3 separate regions of the Homo sapiens genome follow, and regions 1 and 3 are each linked to region 2. Evidence: fine-mapped expression QTL. A gene starts in region 2. Each other region holds a variant in brackets. All regions are shown on one strand. Distances are between the middles of the regions. Region 1 has its middle 22 kb from the start of GADD45G. Region 2 holds the start of GADD45G (growth arrest and DNA damage inducible gamma). Region 3 overlaps LINC03062 (long intergenic non-protein coding RNA 3062).

Evidence for each region. PIP is the estimated chance that this variant, and not a neighbour inherited with it, causes the effect.
Region 1: its variant is the best candidate, but not a certain one, in a credible set for the expression of GADD45G in whole blood (INTERVAL, PIP 0.64).
Region 3: its variant is the best candidate, but not a certain one, in a credible set for the expression of GADD45G in whole blood (INTERVAL, PIP 0.83).

The regions. Positions count from the first base shown.
Region 1 is chr9:89,581,990-89,584,748 of GRCh38, reverse strand. No RefSeq gene overlaps it. Among named protein-coding and RNA genes, the nearest start is that of GADD45G, 22 kb to the left of the region's middle. The variant G/T (reference allele first, on the strand shown) is at 1,513.
Region 2 is chr9:89,603,728-89,606,486 of GRCh38, reverse strand. GADD45G (growth arrest and DNA damage inducible gamma) reads right to left here and starts at 1,475. Exons shown (of 4, transcript NM_006705.4): 1 at 1,313-1,475; 2 at 954-1,055; 3 at 607-820; 4 at 1-518. The coding sequence starts at 1,365. The coding sequence ends at 408. It overlaps LOC105376139 (a long non-coding RNA gene), which reads left to right and starts at 1,471. Exons shown (of 2, transcript XR_930105.3): 1 at 1,471-2,759. RefSeq lists a silencer at 2,106-2,155 and an enhancer at 1,766-2,664.
Region 3 is chr9:89,663,406-89,666,164 of GRCh38, reverse strand. It overlaps LINC03062 (long intergenic non-protein coding RNA 3062), which reads right to left. Exons shown (of 6, transcript NR_024280.1): 2 at 783-1,237. Among named protein-coding and RNA genes, the nearest start is that of LINC03062, 25 kb to the right of the region's middle. The variant A/C (reference allele first, on the strand shown) is at 1,632.

The sequences.
Region 1 (2,759 bases), 22 kb after region 2:
AGTCTTATTCTTCTGCATATTTTATATAGGAGTCCAGTTTCTTTCTTTATATGTGGGTCCAGTTTCATTCTCTGCATTCTTCCAGTACCATGCTGTGTTGGTTACTGTAGCCTTGTAGTATAGTTTGAAGTTGGGTAATATGATGCCTCTGGCTTTGTTCTTTTTGCTTTGGATTGCTGTAGGTATTCGGGCTCTTTTTTGATTCCTTGTGAATTTTAGAAGAGTTTTTTCTAGTTCTATGAAAAATGATGTTGGTTTGATAGGAATAGCATTGAATCTGTAGATTGCTTTGGGCAGTGTAGCCATTTAAATGATATTGATTCTTCCAATCCACGAGCATGAGCATGGAATGTTTTTCCATTTGTTTTTGTCATCTGTTGTTTCTTTCTGCAATGTTTTGTAGTTCTCCTTGTAGAGATCTTTCACCTCCTTGGTTAGATATATTCTTGAGTATTTTTTGTTTGTGTGCCTATTGTAGATAGAATTGCATTCTTGATTTTGCTCTCAGCTTGAATGTTACTGGTTTATAGTAATGCTATTGATTTTTGTACATTAATTTTGTGTCCTGAAACTTTGCGTAAGTCATTTATCAGCTTTAGCAGCCTTTTGGTGGAGTCTAGGGTTTTCTAGGTGTAGAATTATATAACCCATGAAGAGAGATAGTTTGGCTTCTTCTTTTCCTATTTGGATGCCTTTTATTTCTTTCTCTTGCCTGATTGCTCTTGCTAGTGTTTCTAGTACTATGATAAATAGAATCTGCCTTTTCATTGGCTTGTTTAGACCACATACATTTAATGGGGTTATTGCTATGATTAGGTTTAAATTTATTGTGTACTATTTGTTTTCTATTTGCCCCAAGTTCTTTATTTCCATTTTCACTTTTTGCTGCCTTCTTCTGGATTAATTAGTTGGATTCCCTTCTTTTTCAGCTTTGTTGTTGTTGTGTTGTCGTGTTGTTGTTGTTGTTATTGTTTTAGTGATTGCCATAGGGTTTATAGTATCTGTCTTCAAACTGTTAGTCTTTCTTCAAGTGATATTATACCACTGCATGTATTCTGTAAGAGCCATAAGATAGTATACTTCCATTTCTCTCATCCAGGGCTTTATGCTATATTTGTCACACATTTTACTCATACATACATTATAAATCCTACACTGCCCTATCATTTTTGTTTATACAATTACTTTTAAGGAAATTTAAATCATAGGAAAAAGGTCTTAGAGTTGCTATAAAGTTACCTTAGCTCTTCAGTTCTTAGATCCAGTTTCCCATCTGGGGTCATTTTCCTTCTGCCTCAAAGACTTCTTTTAACATTTTTGGCAGTGTCATTCTGCTGGTCAGAACTGTCTTGCTTTTGTATGTCTGATAACGTGTGTATTTCACCTTCAGTTTTGAAGGATGTTTTCTCTGGGCATGGAATTCTAGGTTGAAGGTTTGGGTTTTGCTCTGCGCTTTAAAGGGGCAGCTCCACCATGTTCTCTCGTGTCCTTCCCAGTGAGAAATCTGCTCTT[G/T]TTCTGCATCTGTTCCTTTGTGCTGCTTCTCTGGTTGCTTTTAAGATTAGATTATGATGTGCCTTGATTCATTTTCCTCATTTTTCTTGTGTTTGGGTTTTATTGAACTTTATGGAGTGGTAGATTTATACTCTTCATCAAATTTGGATATTTTTCAGTCATAATCTCTTTAGATAGTCTGTCTGTCTACATGGATGTCTTTAGATAGTCTGTCCATCTACTATAGTCATGTCCATATACATGGCAATCATGTATAGTTGTCCCATAGTCCAGTGATGCTTTTTAGTTTCTTACCCAAATTTTAGTCTTTTTTCTTTCTTCCTCTAGCTTTTTGAACATAAGAAATACAATTATAATAACCATCCTAATGCTCTTATCTGCTGATTCCAACATCAGCATCAATTTTGGGTCAGATTCAGTTGATTGATTATTCTCTTCATTTGGGGTTAAGTTTCACAGGCCTGGTGATTTTCTATTCAATGTCAATAATTTCCGGCTGGGCGCAATGGCTCACGCCTCTAATTCGAGCACTTTGGGAGGCTGAGGCAGGTGGATCACAAGGTCAGGAGTTCAAGACCAGCCTGGCCAAAATGGTGAAACCCCATCTCTACTAAAAATACAAAAATTAGCCTGGTGTGGTGGCTGGCACCTGTAATCCCAGCTACTCAGGAGGCTGAGGCAGAGAATTGCTTGAACCCGGGAGGCAGAGGTTGCAGTGAGCCAAGATCACACCACTGCACTCCAGCCTGGGTGACAAAGCAAGACTCCATCTTGAAAAAAAAGAAATCCATTTTACCTCATTGGATACTAGATTATTTCTGTATTCCTACAAATACTTTTTTAACTTTGCTCTAGGAGGCAATTAAGATTCTTAGAAACAGTTCAATGCTTTCAGGTCTTGTTTTAAGATTTGTTATTTGAATCCAGAGCAGATTGAAGTCTAGGGCTAACAATCCCCCACCACTGGGGCAAGGTCCTTCTGCGTACTATCCCCGGTGCCCCATAGATTCTGTCTTTTTTCAGCCTGCCTGGTGGGAGCAGGCACTATTCCCAGCCCTGTGTGAGTTCCCAGTACTGCTCCCTCTAATCCTTTGTGTGGGTTTCTCCCCAGCCCTGGGTAGCTTCCACGTACACATTCATTGATCCACACTCTACTAAATACTAAAGGGGGTCCTCCGAAGATCTCTGGGCTTCTATCTCTGCACAGCTCTCTCTGCAGTGGTGCCCTGCCCTGGGAAGACCAGCTG
Region 2 (2,759 bases):
CCCGGATCCGTTTTGAAAAAGCAGCGCAGTCGGCTAAGTCCTTCACGCTCCTGCAACTGTACCAAGTCCAGGGCGCCGCTCCTTCCTGCCGAGCGCAGGCTGCTGAGTCACGCCTGCCCGGCCAGTCTGTCCTTCCTGGCCCTGAGGCCAACGTCCTAGCCTAGGCCTTCCTGGGCGAGCAGCCGCTCCAGACACTTGCAGAGTCCTCAGCTCGGACCAGCCTGGCCCTGCCGCCACCGGGCCCCTCCTCGGGAGGCCGCGCCTCCTCGCTCTCCAGGCGCCCCCCCCGCCTGCCAGTCTCCACGCCGCACTCGGGCACCCTCGGAGGGCCCCTCCACAGAGCCAGCCGCGCTCTAGGCGCCCCGGGGCGTCACCACGTCGATCAGACCAAGGTCCCCGCCGGGCTGTCACTCGGGGAGGGTGATGCTGGGCACCCAGTCGTTAACGCTGCGGCTCTCCTCGCAAAACAGGCTGAGCTTCTCCAAGGCGGGATCCTTCCAGGCGTCCTCGTTGGGGTTCTGCGGAGAGAGAGCAGGGTCAGCCTGGCTGGCCGCGGGCCGAGGCGGGAACGACACTGGGGCGGGGACAGGACGGGACTGTACTCACCGAAATGAGGATGCAGTGCAGGTCGCCCGGCGCACCCGCCTCCTCGCCGGCGCCCACGATAGCCGCCAGCCGCTGCACATCGCCCACGCGCACTATGTCGATGTCGTTCTCGCAGCAGAAAGCCTGGATCAGCGTAAAATGGATCTGCAGCGCGATGTCGCCCTCGTCCTCCTCACCCGCAGCCAGCACACAGAAGGTCACATTGTCGGGGTCCCTGCGAGGGCAAGGCGGGGACCTAGGTCAGAACCGGCTAGCCGAGTTCTCCCGCCGCCACCCCTCCCATCCGCCAGTCTCCTCGCCATTCACCCCCGCCCCTGTCTCCCAGCCTGGGCCGCGTCTACACTTACACGTTCAAGACTTTGGCTGACTCGTAGACGCCGGCAGTGAGGCAGCCCTGACGCTGCGCCGACAGCAGCAACTCATGCAGCGCTTTCCCGGCACCCTGCATCCTGCGGAGGAGCCAGCGCAGTGAGCGGGAGCCGGCCGGAGGGCGCGGCGGAGACCCCAGCCCCGGCCACCGGCACACACCCTTGGCTCCCCAACTCCAACCACACTCCAATCCCGGCTCAGCGCCTGCACCCCGGCTCTCCAACCGGGATCTGGCGCCCGGACCCCCGCGCTCCCCTCCTACCCCGCGGATTCCCACCCTGGAAAACCCTGACGGTCGCCGACCGACCAGCGGCTTTCTCAGCGCCCTGAAACCCACCTGGCTGTGCTTTCCGGAACTGTGTCCTGGCCGCGGACTTCTTCCAGAGTCATAGTGCGATCAACCAGCAGCTAGTTATCCACAAGCGGAGAGCGCGGAGGGGACGCGGGCGAACACACTGACAGCCAGAGCTCAGCACGGCGCGCCCACCACCAGCGAGTGCGCCCCTACTACGCTGCGCGCCCTTATATAGGCTGGTGGGTGCGGCGCCGCCAGCTGGCGCGAGGCTGCGCGCCTATTGGCCGGCACCCGCTTTCTGATGTAAATGAGGCGGCGAGCCAGCGGCTCGTGCCAGAAGGCCACGTGGGGAGGGGTGCGGGGGATGACAATGCCTCAAATCTGCCGCTTTTGTTGGGGTGTTACCAGGCAGACTGGAGCCTGCAGATTTCATCTCGCCTGGCTTTTTTTTTTTTTTGAAGTCCTTAAAAGGAAAAAGTAAAAAAAAAAAAAAAAGAAAAAACCCAACCCACAAAAACCTTGTTTGCTTATATGATGCTGCAATTTGCGAAAAGCACCTTTATAGAAGCAAAGGGATTTTTTTTTGCATTTTGTATTGCTACCTTTCTATTTGTTTCTTTTCTTTAATTTGAAGTCTATGAGACTGTTGCATTGGAGCCAGAAATTAAGGTAAAAACAGGTAGCGCCAGTTAGAGGCTTGCAAAAGGCAGTGGGCACAGCCCCCTGCAGCTGACCACTAGCGTCCCGAGCGCGCTGGTGATGCCTGCCAGGCATACTCAATGTGTACATTGAGCCGTCTCTGGAAGATCCCACCCCACCTCCCCGCCCTTGGCCGAGCGCGGCGGGGCGCGGGAGACGGGGGCGGGCGGGGACGAGCAGATTGCGGCCGGCGCACGCCGCTCGTTTGCATTTCTATGGAGGGCGCACAATAGCAGAGGTCTGGCGTGTGGCGGTTTGCTGTAGGGACAATCGAGGCTTTCTCTTCATAGCAACACTGTCCACCTGCCGCCGGGTGGGGTGGGCAGGACCCCGCCGCGCGTGGGGGTCGCCGGGCTGCCTGGCGCGTGGGGTCGAGGCTGAGTGCCACTCCGTGGTCCCTGAGTGCACGCCCCCAGTACTGGCCCTGCTACAAGTAATTCCCTTCCATCCGTTCCTCGCACGGGTGCCGAACAGCCGCGCGAGTTGGGAAGGACGGAGAGCTGCTGTGCAGTCTTCGCGGCTGGACGCCCTGTGGCCGGGACCCCGCGGCTGCAGCCCCTGGAGCTTAGGTAATGCAGCTCGGAATCTTTCCCGGGGCGCCATCTGCAGGCAGGTTAAAAAGATCCTGAACCCCTTTTGTCCTCCCCTCCCCCCAACACACACACCCTTGCATTGGCCTGGCGCGGGGGAAGGGCGGTGGAGAGGGACGGCCACGGAGCTGCCCGGCCGGGCCCAGTGAGCCCTGTCCAAGCTGCGCATAAATAGAACCCGAGTAAGGGCTGCAAAACGC
Region 3 (2,759 bases), 60 kb before region 2:
TGATCTTGTGGACAACCAAAGTCAGCACCTTTGCAAACCAGGATTCATAACTAAATATGCTGGCATTTCTGGCTTTATTCAAACCACTTCCAAACTAAGATCAGCACATAGACAGAATATCACATTCTGGACATAAACGTGGGTCTCCTTCCAAACATGAAACAAGCTAATGAACCAGCGAAAGCCCCAATCTTTGACTGGCTCACGAACTCAGTATTTAAAACAGTAACACTAGGCTTTTGTGGGAACTATTGATGCACATTTAAGTCTTTTAATAAGGGTAAGTAAGAAGAACTCATTCTACAAATGACTCTGGGGATGTTTTTTGGGCTAGTACTCAAGCACACGGCCAGAGCTTGCTAACTCGATGCCCAAATCTGGTGTCTGCTGACAGCTATCCTCAATAGTGAGCAAATTTCTTGGGATCTGGTTTTCTCAGTCTTTAAATGAGGCCAGGTGCAGTGGTGCACGCCTGTAATCCCAGCACTTTGGGAGGCTAAGGGAGGCAGATCACTTGAGCTCAGGTGTTCGAGACCAGCCATGGGCAACATGGAGAAACCCCATCTCTACCAAAAATGCAATTAGCTGCTCATGGTGGTGTGCACCTGTGGTCCCAGCTACTCAGGAGGCTAAGGTGGAAGGATCACTTGAGCCCCTGGAGGCGGAGGTTGCAGTAAGCCGAGATGGTGCCACTGCACTCCAGCCTGGGTGACAGAGCAAGACCCTGTCTCAAAAATAAATAAATAAATAAATGAGGCTAGGAATGGTGCGGACATACCCACCCAAGAGAGATGAGGATGGTGATGGTGAGGGGCCAGGTGACGTGACAGCAGGAGTCTCCAGAGCTGCCGGGAGCCCCTCGGGCTGGGAGGCACCATGGGTACAGCAGCCCAGATGCTGCCGCAGGGCCACTCCAGTGTGCTGTGCTGGGCAGGGCCCTCCCAGGTCTCTGCAGCAGGGAGGAAGCGAGGTGTTACTGGGCCAGCTCTGTTCTCCTGAGCCGGACTGGCTCCCGTCATCTGGACCTAAAGTGGCCAAACAGGTTTTCCAGGTGGCAGCTGAGCTTCTGCAGCATCCGGAACACTTTGTTCCTAGTAGTGTCCCAGAGGGCTGTGTTCACAAGCCAGGTTCAACGTGCGATGGGAGCCTGAAAGGGAGGGCGTATCCTTCATGTGTCCCCAAGCGTGACCCAGAGCACTCCAGAGAAGAAAGTCATCCTCTGTCCGGTTAAACGGGGCTGTGTTTTTAGAGCAAAGGACAGAGGGAAAGGTCAGAGTCTCTCTCATTCGTGCCCTTCTCAGGAGGATCTGAGCTCCCACCAGAGAAGAGGCCTAGAAAGGTGACACATCTCTAGCAGGGCCCCAGAAAATTACATTTTGGAGAAAAGAATGCCTTACCTCATTCTTTGCTTAATTGTCTATGGTAGTGGTTCCAAATCTGGGGAGGTATTTTTATACAGATTCCCAGGCTCCAACCCAACTAGAATCTCTGCAAGGGGAACCCAGGAATCCATAATTCTGATGTTACAGGTGTAAAGGACTAACATTCAGGTGCTGTGACCCACACTCCCAAGATTTCTGGGATACTCACTCCCCAGAGTTGAGATGATAAAGCCTGAGGCATTTCTAAAA[A/C]TATCAGTCAACTGGTTGAATTTCATTTCTGGTCATGACCACTAAAATTCAACTGAGTCCCAGAGAAAAATTCAGAGATAGTGCATTTTTCATTGTTTTCTTGCCAGAAACCTTGGCTCCGTATTCCTATGCCATCCATTACCATTAGCTGTGTGCTCGCCTGCCAGGGCTGGCCCTGCATTCAGGGAGCTCACACACCCTCCAGCTCTGGACTTCCATACCTGGCTGGGGCACCTATAGCCAATAAGCCACTCACATTGGTAAACCTGGTTTAACTCAACTCTCCTGGTTTCTGTGTTTCAAAATCAGAAATCAGCCAAATGTCACTCCCCACCTGGACCGCCAGCTCTGGAGGAAGGGCTGTCAGGTCTGGGTGTCTGCAGCTCAGCTCGGCACCCGAGGGTGCAAGGAAGAAGCCAGTGGGTACATGAAGGACAGCTTGTTTCTCTTTCTTACTGCTGGCTCTCAGCCAATGTCAGAGGATTATCATAGCCCCTACTGCCTCTCCTCTTCTAGACCCCCACTCCCTCTCCTCTTCTCCAAGCTGCCATTCCTGAAATCTGCTTTCATCTGCCTTCCTTCTTGAATAAGGGAGAAAGGAACTAATAGCAGTTGAATTTTACTGTGCCCGGTGCTTTCATTCTATGTTATCTCTGAAAGCATCCCATTTCTCAAGCAGCCTTTTGTAATATTATCCCGATGAGAAAGTAAGGCCCAGAGAAGTTAAGGACTTTTCACAAGGTCACACAGCTGGTAGCAGAGCGAGCATTCAGGCTCCAGCCTGCATAAGGCAAAGTTGGCCCTTGAGCAAAGTTCCTTGGAATTCAGAGGAAATGCTCCTGTTTCAGAAATTGTCATCTCTACAGGGCCAGGTGCCACAAGGTAGAAGAACAGCCCAGTGCCCATCAAGGCCCACACACAGAGCCCAGGGCAGGAAACCCACACAGGAGAGCCACAGTACCCACAGAAACCACTCCCATCAGCCCTGCAGGACCCTGAAGACACCTGGCCACTGCTCTTCCCTCCAGGCCCGCCTGGGAAGGCAGTGGGATAGAACATACAGGGAGAAAGGAGTGCTGTTGGGGATCCCTGGGACTTCCCCAAGGTGCCCAGATGGCCCACAGAAGC